3 separate regions of the Homo sapiens genome follow, and all the other regions are reported to be linked to region 1. Evidence: microRNA targets listed by miRTarBase, many of them from high-throughput screens and not tested one by one. Region 1 holds a microRNA gene; each other region holds the end of a gene's coding sequence. Distances are between the middles of the regions.
The links. The annotated mature microRNA hsa-miR-6716-5p reads UGGGAAUGGGGGUAAGGGCC and lies in region 1 at 1,601-1,620, opposite strand. An mRNA with a match to its seed (bases 2 to 7 or 8) in the 3' UTR can be bound and repressed. Matches are read on the target gene's strand: a 7mer-m8 pairs with bases 2 to 8, a 7mer-A1 pairs with bases 2 to 7 and ends in A, and an 8mer does both.

Region 2: the mRNA of MCC is a reported target of hsa-miR-6716-5p. The part of its 3' UTR that is shown has no 7-base or 8-base seed match.
Region 3: miRTarBase lists KMT2A as a target of hsa-miR-6716-5p. Seed matches in the 3' UTR shown: 7mer-m8 at 2,144-2,150.

Annotation. Positions count from the first base shown.
Region 1 is chr11:118,642,289-118,645,634 of GRCh38, reverse strand. It overlaps MIR6716 (microRNA 6716), which reads right to left and starts at 1,635; the gene lies at 1,556-1,635. PHLDB1 (pleckstrin homology like domain family B member 1) reads right to left here. Exons shown (of 23, transcript NM_001144758.3): 13 at 3,241-3,346; 14 at 1,695-1,835; 15 at 1,461-1,563; 16 at 1-279. RefSeq lists an enhancer at 1,161-1,660.
Region 2 is chr5:113,024,787-113,027,786 of GRCh38, forward strand. MCC (MCC regulator of Wnt signaling pathway) reads right to left here. Exons shown (of 19, transcript NM_001085377.2): 19 at 1-2,696. The coding sequence ends at 2,516. Among named protein-coding and RNA genes, the nearest start is that of DCP2, 49 kb to the left of the region's middle.
Region 3 is chr11:118,521,678-118,525,023 of GRCh38, reverse strand. It overlaps KMT2A (lysine methyltransferase 2A), which reads right to left. Exons shown (of 36, transcript NM_001197104.2): 36 at 1-3,127. The coding sequence ends at 2,852. The region is part of intron 1 of TTC36-AS1 (TTC36 and KMT2A antisense RNA 1); the gene reads left to right. Among named protein-coding and RNA genes, the nearest start is that of TTC36, 4.1 kb to the left of the region's middle.

The DNA.
Region 1 (3,346 bases):
GGGAGCAGGCCGAGTTGCCCCCGGTGGAGATGCTGGTCTCCATGCTGTCAGAGCTCTCCAGACTCAGCGTATCATAGGCGTGCTCACCCTCCTCCCCACGCTCCCGCCCCGCAGGCAGGTGGTGTAGGATAGAGTGGTGCATGAGAGGGGGGAAGCCCGAGGGGCCCGCTGGGAAGGGTGCTGCCCCGTGAAGGGCATCCCACTGGCACTGTGCCTCAGCTGCCGCTTTCTGCTTCAGCTCAGCCAGTCGCCGCCGCTGCTCTTCAATCACTTGTTGTCCTGAAGGAGAGACAGATGGGAGTCACAGTGGGCTCCCCACGCAGCTAAGGAGCAGGCCACTGGCAGCACAACACACAGAGGGAGGGGCAAGCAGGGAGAGGTTAACACAGAGCAGCCCCCTCTCCCCGCAGCTTCCCTAAGGCCCCTGCAGCTCCAGGCCTGGCTGCTCTGCCAATGCTTCAGTCGCCTGCACAACCGGCCACAGATGCACAGTCTGGCTTCAGTGCTCTTTCGCACCCTGAGTCCATATAGGACACCAAACCTACCCAAGTAGTGCTGGGGCAGCACGACAGCCAGTTGGCTCCAGCTCACAACCAAGGCCTAAGTAGGTCTAGGCAGGATACATGCACCCACCCTGCCTGCTGGAGAAGGGAGAAGGAAGAGATGGCAGAAACCCCATGAGCACCCAGACTGCCAATGCAGACCCCCCTGCAATGCAGAAGCAAAAGCAACAAACGCAAGAAAGAAGGCAGGGGAGACACGGTAGAGCACAGATGAGGGCAGAAGAGAGGCCAGCTGGAGGGGTGAGGCCAGCAGACACCCCAACCCAGCTCAGCCTGGGACCCTGCCTGCAGGCAGTGGGGACCTGGGCAGGACACATCATGCTGATGCCAGGGCAGGGGCTGCCTGGCCAAAGCAATGCCCTCTATGACCAACGTTCTACCTGCTGGGTCGTCGGTTGGGAGGGGCTCGGCGGGAAGCGACTCGACTGGCGTGGGGGACCCCAGGCAGAGGGTACGGTAGAGACACAGAGGGGGTAAGAGGAGAGAGAGGCACAGACATGGGCTTTCAAAACAACCAAATTGCACACAAGCAACAAGGACTCCTGGGTCCCCAGAGCCAATATCTCAGGCAACCATTTCTAGAAGTCATCAAATCCATCCCCTCCCTCCAGAGAGGGCAATGTCTAACCCGACTCAGGTCAACAAGCAGTTCCCTTATTGGCTAGGCTCTCTAGGAAAGATGTCACAGCCCCCTAAGCCCTTAGTCTCCTGCCCTGAAGGCTTTAGATAAATATCCAGGAAGCTCTTCTTTAGGTACCCACTCTAAATCCTTTCTGGTCTTGCCTAGATCCCAATTAAAGGAAAAACATCCTGTGAAAGGTGTGAGCATAGAGGAGGCATGGCAACTACCCAGGGTCCCCTCAGGAGAGCAGGTGGGCTGGCGGGGCAGTCACTCACCCTTCTGCTGCAGAGCTAGTTGGCGCTTGGTCTCGATGTCCTGCAGTGTGGCTGCCAGGTTGCGAGGAAGGCTGCCCGTGCCATTCTGGGTGAGTAGAGCGCTCTGCAGAGGAATGGAGAGTTCGGACCTGGGCTCAGAAGGCCCTTACCCCCATTCCCAAGGTCTTGGCCTCTCCCCAGGGTGGAAGTCTCCATCCCCAGCCACATGTGCAGCCCCACCCACTGTCCTCAGACCTTTGGGGAGGGGCTACGCCCCAGGGTAGCCACGCTGAGCTGGGAGGAGGAGGAGGAAGAGCCAGAGGAGGAGGGGAGGGGGCCGCTGCGGGTCCGGGGAAGGGGGCTGGTGGCCTCGCCATCCATCTTGGAGCGGTAAACCTGGAAAGAAAAGATAGTGCCCAGTGATTCCTGGCTCCCCCATTGGCCACCTCCCCCATGTCACCTAGTCTGCTGTGATCTGACGTACCGCCCTGGCACTAGGCCTCTGAGGCCTTCTGGCTCTGACAACAAGCCTCCTGAGCCAGCCCAATGGCCAGATGCTATTGGCAGCTGCCAATTCTCCTTTCCAGGCTGTTCCTCCCTGGGCCAATCCCTAGCCCAACCCTGGGTCTAAGAAAAGACCTGTAAACAGACCCATGCAAGGATTTAATGTCAGTCAGGCAGTTGTGCAGGAGACCAACTAGAAGCTGGGTTCCCTCTGGTCCTAGCTCTGCCACTAACAGGCTGTGTGACCTTGGGCCACACACCTCCCTACTCTGGGCCTTGGCTTCCTTATCTGCAAAAGAAGGGGGTAGGACTAGACTAAATAATGGCCAAGCTCCCCTGCAGCACTAGCATGTGGTGAATATGGCCTTTAGTGTCACAAACCCTGACGTGGCATAAGCTCTGCTACTTCCTAGCTGTGTGGCCTTGGAGAGATTACTTATCTTCTCTAGGCCCCAGTGTTTCATCTATAAAATGAGTTAACTTCATCTACCTCAAAGGCCTATGATGATGATCAGAGAATCAAAACACGTTAAAATCTCTAACCAGCTGGGTACACAGTAGAAGTCTTACATGATCAAACTCCTCCCCAAGGAAACATGAAATTTTAGCTGAGGTCACAGTCTTACAGATGCAGTGCCTTCACTCAAGGGGTGATCTTAAATGGTCAATCTTAGGCACTGCAGCTGGTCAGTGGAGGAAACCTGAGGAGAAGACTAGCCCAGCCCCCTTTCCCACCCCATGGTCAGTTGCTTGCTGCAGGTTCAGGTAGGCCCACGCCCTCCATGGCAACTCTGAGGAGGCTTAGGCTGTCACTTCAGAGTCTTTGCCCTTTGTTTTCTGCTTCCAAGTGTCACTGCTGGAGAGACCAGGAGAACAAAATACTGGCAGTTCTTCCCAGGACACACTAGTTCCAGTTGCCACAGGCCCAAGAGCCTGTCAGGCCCCCAGACTGGGTGAGAAGCTCCAGGTGTTGGGGGCTGCCAAGCATAGGCCAGACCCACAGCCTAGCTCAGCACAGGGCACCAAACAGATCCCAAACTGACCACAGCTCCAGAATCCTCTTCCACCAGACACTCAATCAGATAGTTTTAGACTATGGAGGCTGGCCCCCCGGTTGCCCACATGCCAGGATGGCTGCCCAAGGAGTGACCCTCTCAGGGCCCAGAGGTGCCCTCATTGCCCTGACTGGGCTGACGCCTCCACTCAAGGTGGTACTGTGTGGCTGATGGATTGGCAGGAGGTATCAGAGTGGACAGGTGCAAAGGCTGGGGAGGACGGGCAGTGAAGGAGGGGTTACCTGCAGCTGACGGGAAGCTTTGGCGGGCAGAGGCGGGGGAGAAGAGTGAGGGGAGGCTGCAGCGGGGCCAGTCCCCAGCCCGGCCATCAGCTCCTGGTACCACTGC
Region 2 (3,000 bases), not on the chromosome of region 1:
TCAAGTGCCACCTAGTTCACCTTCAAGGATTGTGTCTTGGGGAGTATTTGAAAAATACAAGAAAAGGAAAAACTTTTATAGCTTTTTTATTATACATATTTATAAAAAATTAACACTTTTGCCTGCAAAATAGTTTTTACCCAAATCACATTTGAAAGTACTAAAACTAAGGTCAGGTAGCATGAGTAAAACTGGGGCCCTTAACAGGAGCTGGAGCCGCCTCTGCCTGGGGGAATTCTCAGAGAAGGGGAGGTTCTCTGATTTTACCTGGAGCAAGAATGGAGACAGAAGTCAGTAGGCAGGATTTTATTCCTGCTTCAGCCACATGTTTCTGTGTCAGTGAAAATGAAAACTGCCCATTTGATGCCTGCTTAATCACAAAAAAGAGCCATGCACATCCCACTTTGCTCAGGGGAGGACGTTTCCCTAGGCAAGCTGGAAAAATAGTGAAAACTGATTTTTTTTTTTTTGGGGCATATGTTTTTCAGCCAAAACATTTTCCTCATGATAAAATGCAACTTTATATGAAAAGTGAAAAATTCTAAAAAATCACAGGAATGGCCAGGCACATTGGCTCATGCCTGTAATCCCAGCACTTTGGGAGGCCGAGGTGGGTGGATCAGTGGTCAGGAGTTCGAGACCAGCCTGGCCAACATGGTGAAACCCTGTCTCTACTAAAAATACAAAAAAACTAGCTGGGTATGGTGGCGGGCACCTGTAATTCCAGCTACTCAGGAGGCAGAGGTTGCAGTGAGCCAAGATCACGCCACTGCACTTCAGCCTGGTGACGAGCAAAACTCCATCTCAAAAAAAAAAAAAAAAAATCACAGGAACTAACTTTGACCAAATGATTGACAGAAACCAGTGAACATTTTCATAGTGATCAAAGCACCCCAAAGCTGGTCCTTCTAGACTGATACCAGTTGATCTGTTGTTTCGTTTTGGAGATGGGCAGCCTCACTGCTGGCCTCTCAGTGGTTGCTTTTAGGATACAGCTGTCTGCCCTCCGAACTGGTGGCTGGAGTATCCTCCAGCGAACAGAAGGCTGTGGAATTTGTATCATGCTCTGAAAATAGACCTACCCGTAGCTTATGGACATAAAGACTCTATGCAGAAACCTCCTCAACTTTAATTTGTAGTCAGCTATGGCAATGGAACACATTTTTCATAGGGAACTTTGGATGGATTCTCTGGTGCTACAGAAAAAAACAGTAAATGGTCCTTCAAGTGTATCAGTGTAGAACTGAGAGAGAAGAGGTAAAACTGAAAAAGAATAATGAATTTGTTTTAAGATTGAAGACCTTCCTGAAATAATTCAGTTACTTTGGTACTGCCTAGCCCTGTAAGCATTTTGCTTGAAATTTAACCTTTTAAGCACCATATGCTAACCATCACCATGTATCTGGGGGCAAAAAAGAAGCCTTAACTACCATTCCCTCACTCTGTCCCCGTCATGACAACAGGAGCTAAGTCTTGAACTGGGGGTTACACAGCACTCTTAAGTAGGCGTGATAAGTTTTGCAAAATGTTCAGTATCTCCTCAGTGTCTTGTCCTTAGGTAGAGACAGGTCCAGAGCTACAAATGCACCCATGTGGAAGAGATTTGATTCAGCAGAACAGCAATTATGTAGTGCCCTGGGGCGGGAAGTGCTAATAATGTTTCTCAGCTCTTGAAGAAACCCCTGACAGAATTTTAGTTCCACTACAGGTATCAAAAAGATTCCCAGCTCTAAGTCTTGGATATTAATAAGGCTCCACTGAGAGGGAGAAATCCCAGAATCAAGAGAGCGCTCCCTTCCCAGCCCTGCCTCCAAAATGAAGATTGAAGGAAGTTTTTATTCTCTCAATACAAAATTGTTCAGGCACAGTCCTGGTGGTGGTCTGTTTGTAACTTTAGTGTATCTGGGACTGTAAGTAACACCTGTCTACGCTCTTCCCATGACCTATAACTCCCAGAGATCACCTCTTATGGCCGCCTCTATCTTAAAGTTGAGACCCGGGACTTGGAAACCAAAGCCTTGCTGTAGTAAACAAATCAGCAGTCCTTTTAAATGCTGGAGGCACACACAGGTCTGTTTTCCCATGAAGCAGGAGGAAAGAGGAGAAACGAGATTCTAGAAGATGAGCCCAGCATCTACCAAAAAGAGGATACAATGGAAAATCTTACAGAAACAAATGTCTGGGATCCCACTGATGCACAGCCGCCAGACCAGAAGAGGAGGGGGAGAGTGAGTGCTGAAAGCAGAAACGAGGCTCTGCTGAGCAGGCACAGAACATGTGTTTACACGCTGTTGTGGGCCCAGGAGGGAAGAGCGGGCACCTCTGGATACAGTCCACAATGTCACCATGGCCAGTCGCCCCAAGGGTTGAGTTGGGGCACTCCATTGTCCAAGTGCCGACCTACCTGCCAGCCTTCCCTTTCCTCCTCCTCCCAACAAGTACATGGGCCCTTCTGTCCCCAGTGGCCTGCTGCAGTTTACTTCCCATGGGCAGAACTCCGGTGCGTGAGTGCTGATTAAAGCGAAGTTTCATTGGTGTGTGGCCTGGAGTTCTCCTCCTCTAGCAGAGCTATTCTTTGCTTGAGCATCCTCACTTGGGTCTCATGTCTCTCCACCATGGCCATCATCTGCGACTCTAACTTCTTCAGTTTGTTTTGATGCTTTTTCTTTGCTTTCTCATAGGCAGCCACCAGGTTGCTAGGTGGGAATGAAGGGAAATTGGTATTAAGATTCATCCTAAGTAGCATCGTGACACCATCCTGTCCACTGGATAACCAGATCTAGTGAGCACTGCTCTGAAGAAAGATCACTCATCCTCTTCGGTAAGAATCTGAAATCTAGTGGTCAGAGGAGGGACAGCACCAGGATGTCAACACTCAACGGCCAGTCACCTACTGGCTTAACCCTGATGAATCCAGCCGGATTGCTAGAGGCTGGTCACTCTCACATATTAGAAGGGGTTCTAAGAGTCAAACCAGCAATCCAAATTGGCCCAGTCCAA
Region 3 (3,346 bases), 120 kb from region 1:
TCAAGGCTGAGCTAGAAGAGGAATTTCTCATTTTTGTGGTTGACAATTAGGGGGTGGAAAGGCAAGGCAAACCATCTGCAGCTGGCAGGAGAAGGAAGCTGTGGGTTCCTCCCCTGTCCTCAGGGTTTAGGGTTGGTAGAGAGTGAGGAGGGGCTCACAGTACAGCATGGCCTAGCAGGGCAGTAACTAGGTCTATTTAGCTGAGTTCCCCCCACCCCCTGACTGGCCTTTGGGTCTTTCTCAAGGTGAATTCAGGACCCATCAGTGCATTAATCATTTCAGTAACAAATGCAGCTTAAGGTTTTTTTTTTTTCTTTAAAAAAAATAGGAATACAAGGATTTACAAAAAAACCTCACACAGTGCAATAATAAAGGAAAGCAGACACTAGTGGAACCCCTAGGGCCACTGCATCTTGTTCATGGGCAAAAGGAGGAAGGGAGGTGAGGTCTGGGTAGAGTGCTTTTCCCAGTCCCCTGCTGGCACTTCTCCATGATGACAAGGAAGTCTCTGCCATCCTGGCCACAGTGCTGGGCTCCCTGCATGACAGTGAAAACAGTGACAATGTTCCAGCAAAGCCACCAGACAAAGTTCTTAAGGTCACAGGAGAGAAGGGAGCCCAGGATGGAAGGCACAGCAGAGCCATGAGTCCTGGGGCAGAGAGTGCTGGGCTGAGTCGTATTGCTTTGCTAGACTTCCATAGGAATGGGCTTCTTGCGGCGAGAAAAGGGTGCCCCACCCTCTACTTGGACTACACTACTCTGAAACCTTGTGGCAGAGGCAGAGAAAAATCTGCTTTATCGTGAGTGGTCAGACTGTGCTTCAGTTTCAACAGGCTGCCCCAAAAGAGGGCACAAGGTGATCAATGGGTTCTCTGCAGATATGAGGACTTGGTGGGCAGAGGGAAAGGAAAGAGTGGCCTATGAGGCAGATGGTGATGCAAAAATGTCAAGTTGCCATTCAACTTGTTGTTTGCTAACTCTGAAGTAAGAAAGATGAGGGAAATGTAAAGATTGCCGTCTCCCACCACTCTGGAAGTTGCGCCGGAAAGGAGAGAGGCGGGAAAGAAGAGAATCTGTTGTATCAAGATATTACTGTAGCCTTTTGAGGAGCTTCAATAGGGGAAGGAGGGGAGTGGCCCAATGGAGTTGGGTGACCTTCCTTCTCCATTTATTGTCAAAGAGCAAACCCAGGAAACATTTATGTCAACAGGGCACAAACAAGCTACACATTAAACAACAAAAAGTACACCTTCCAGGGGGAAGTTGGGCAGGAAAAACCAGACTTTGTGTGTACAGCTGAATATTTTCTCTAACTTCATCCTATGAAAATAAAAAATTATTAAAAACCGATCTTCTTTTAAATTAGGATAATACCGCGGTTTAAAAAATAGCCTTGTCATAAGTGCTTCTCCCTATGAAGTGCTTCTCATAGAAAAATATACAAAATATATTTACATTTATAAAACCTTAAATAGTAAACTGTAAACAGAACAGAGTAAAATCCAATGACTTAATTTAACAGGTTCAGGACTCTGTCTTGGGGAAAGGAAGAGAAGAAACATTTGATGCTGTTTTGACCACATCCTAAGGAGTAATCAGGGCAGTAGTGTCATTGAATTTACTTTAGCTGTGGGTTGCACGCAGGTGGCAGAGTTCCCTCAACATAAGGTGGTCTAGTCCCCAAGTTGTGGGCCTTGAAATCTGATTAGTGTTCTGCCTTCAACTGGACACTGACCGTTTAAAAATTAAGTCTTCCTATGTCTTAACAAGGGGAAAATAAAGTAACCATGTCTTAGGAATGGGACCCAAGGGTCATCCTGGCTGTGATACTCTCGTTGTTGCATGATTTAAATCCTATTTAAATAATCTTTTTCCTCTCCTACAAAATCATGCTACATATGTTTCTTTAAAACTCTCCATGGAGCTTTATGAAAATGTTTCCAAATTCTGTCTGGTTATGACCAATGGCTCCTGTCCACTTCCCCACCTGGAGTGCTTACAGGCTCAGGGAACTTTTTGCAGGCACATCCTATGCCCAGCAGGGAGTGTCCTTGAGCAGGCAGTCAGTCTCCCCTACAACCCGAAAGAAGCATGGGAAAGCAGTGGCATGAAGACAGGGGAAAGGAAGAAAAGGGAGTGAAGAGGGAATGGGAGAGGGAAGCCGCTCCTACTGTCAAGAAAGGTAATTGGCTGAGATAAGGCTCCTGGGGGCAACACTCCCACTCAAAGCCTGCAGGCTCAATGTTTGGTAATTAATTGGCACAACCCCATGACAGCCTTTTGACACCGGAGGTGCTAGGAATCCTGTCTCCCAACCAGAAGTGAACTCTCGAGTGGGAGGATAGTAGGGAAAACCACCAGACCTCTGTTTGTTCGACAGACGCTGTAGGTGGGGCCTGGCTGGCAAACTGTCAGGAATCTAACCAACCCTCCATTTGGGGCTTTGCCTGACCCACTCACTTACAGTGCTTGGGAAAGGGCCAACCTGAGGATGGCAACTTATTTCTGTGGAGAAATTCAGGCCCAATCTCCCAACATAACCAACCCTCTATAATAGGCTCCTTCCAGGCAAGTCTGCTAGGGACCCCATTCCCACTTTCTAACAGTAAACAATTGGAGGGGCCCCAGGAGAAAGCCGATCATGGATCTTTTCTTCGAGACCTCAACTCTGTCTCTGGGACTATGATCACATGTCTGATGTGAGTATAGGACATAAGAGAGCTCAGCCATCACAGAGGCCCCTCAGCTGTGCCACGCAATCCGGGAGCTCCCAGCTGCTGGAAAAGGCCTTCAGCGTTGCTTTGGATGGCCCCGCCTCCTTGCACTCCAACACTGGGGGAGAAGAGCAGCTTTAGTTTAGGAACTTCCGGCATTTCTTGGCGCCACAGTTGCAGGGCAGCTTGTTGCTGGCATCCTCAATGGGGAACTTATAGTCGTAAGTGAGTTCCTCTCCTCGGTAGATCTTACGCATGGCAAAGATGACAATGTGCTTCTGCCCATCAATATTGATGACCCGAGAATAGCAGTTAGGCTCACACGAGTGATTGATGAAGCGTGCAGCATTTCCATGCATGGTGGCATCCACTACCTCTGAGTCATCAATTCGGAACATATAGCAACCAATGCCCTGCACATGCAGAAGAAGGGAGAAGAACTTGTCATTTCTTATAAACTCAGCTTTAAGAACATGTCCCAATCTTCTCTTGATGTTACCTATAGCGGCTGAGAAAGTTTCTTCTAGTAAAATTTCCAGATTTCTCCCAGTACTATCTTTCAAGATGCTTCCACGAGGATTTCCTAGATTACAGGCCACTAGTCTAGAGGTTTCTAATGTCTCTGCAGGAGA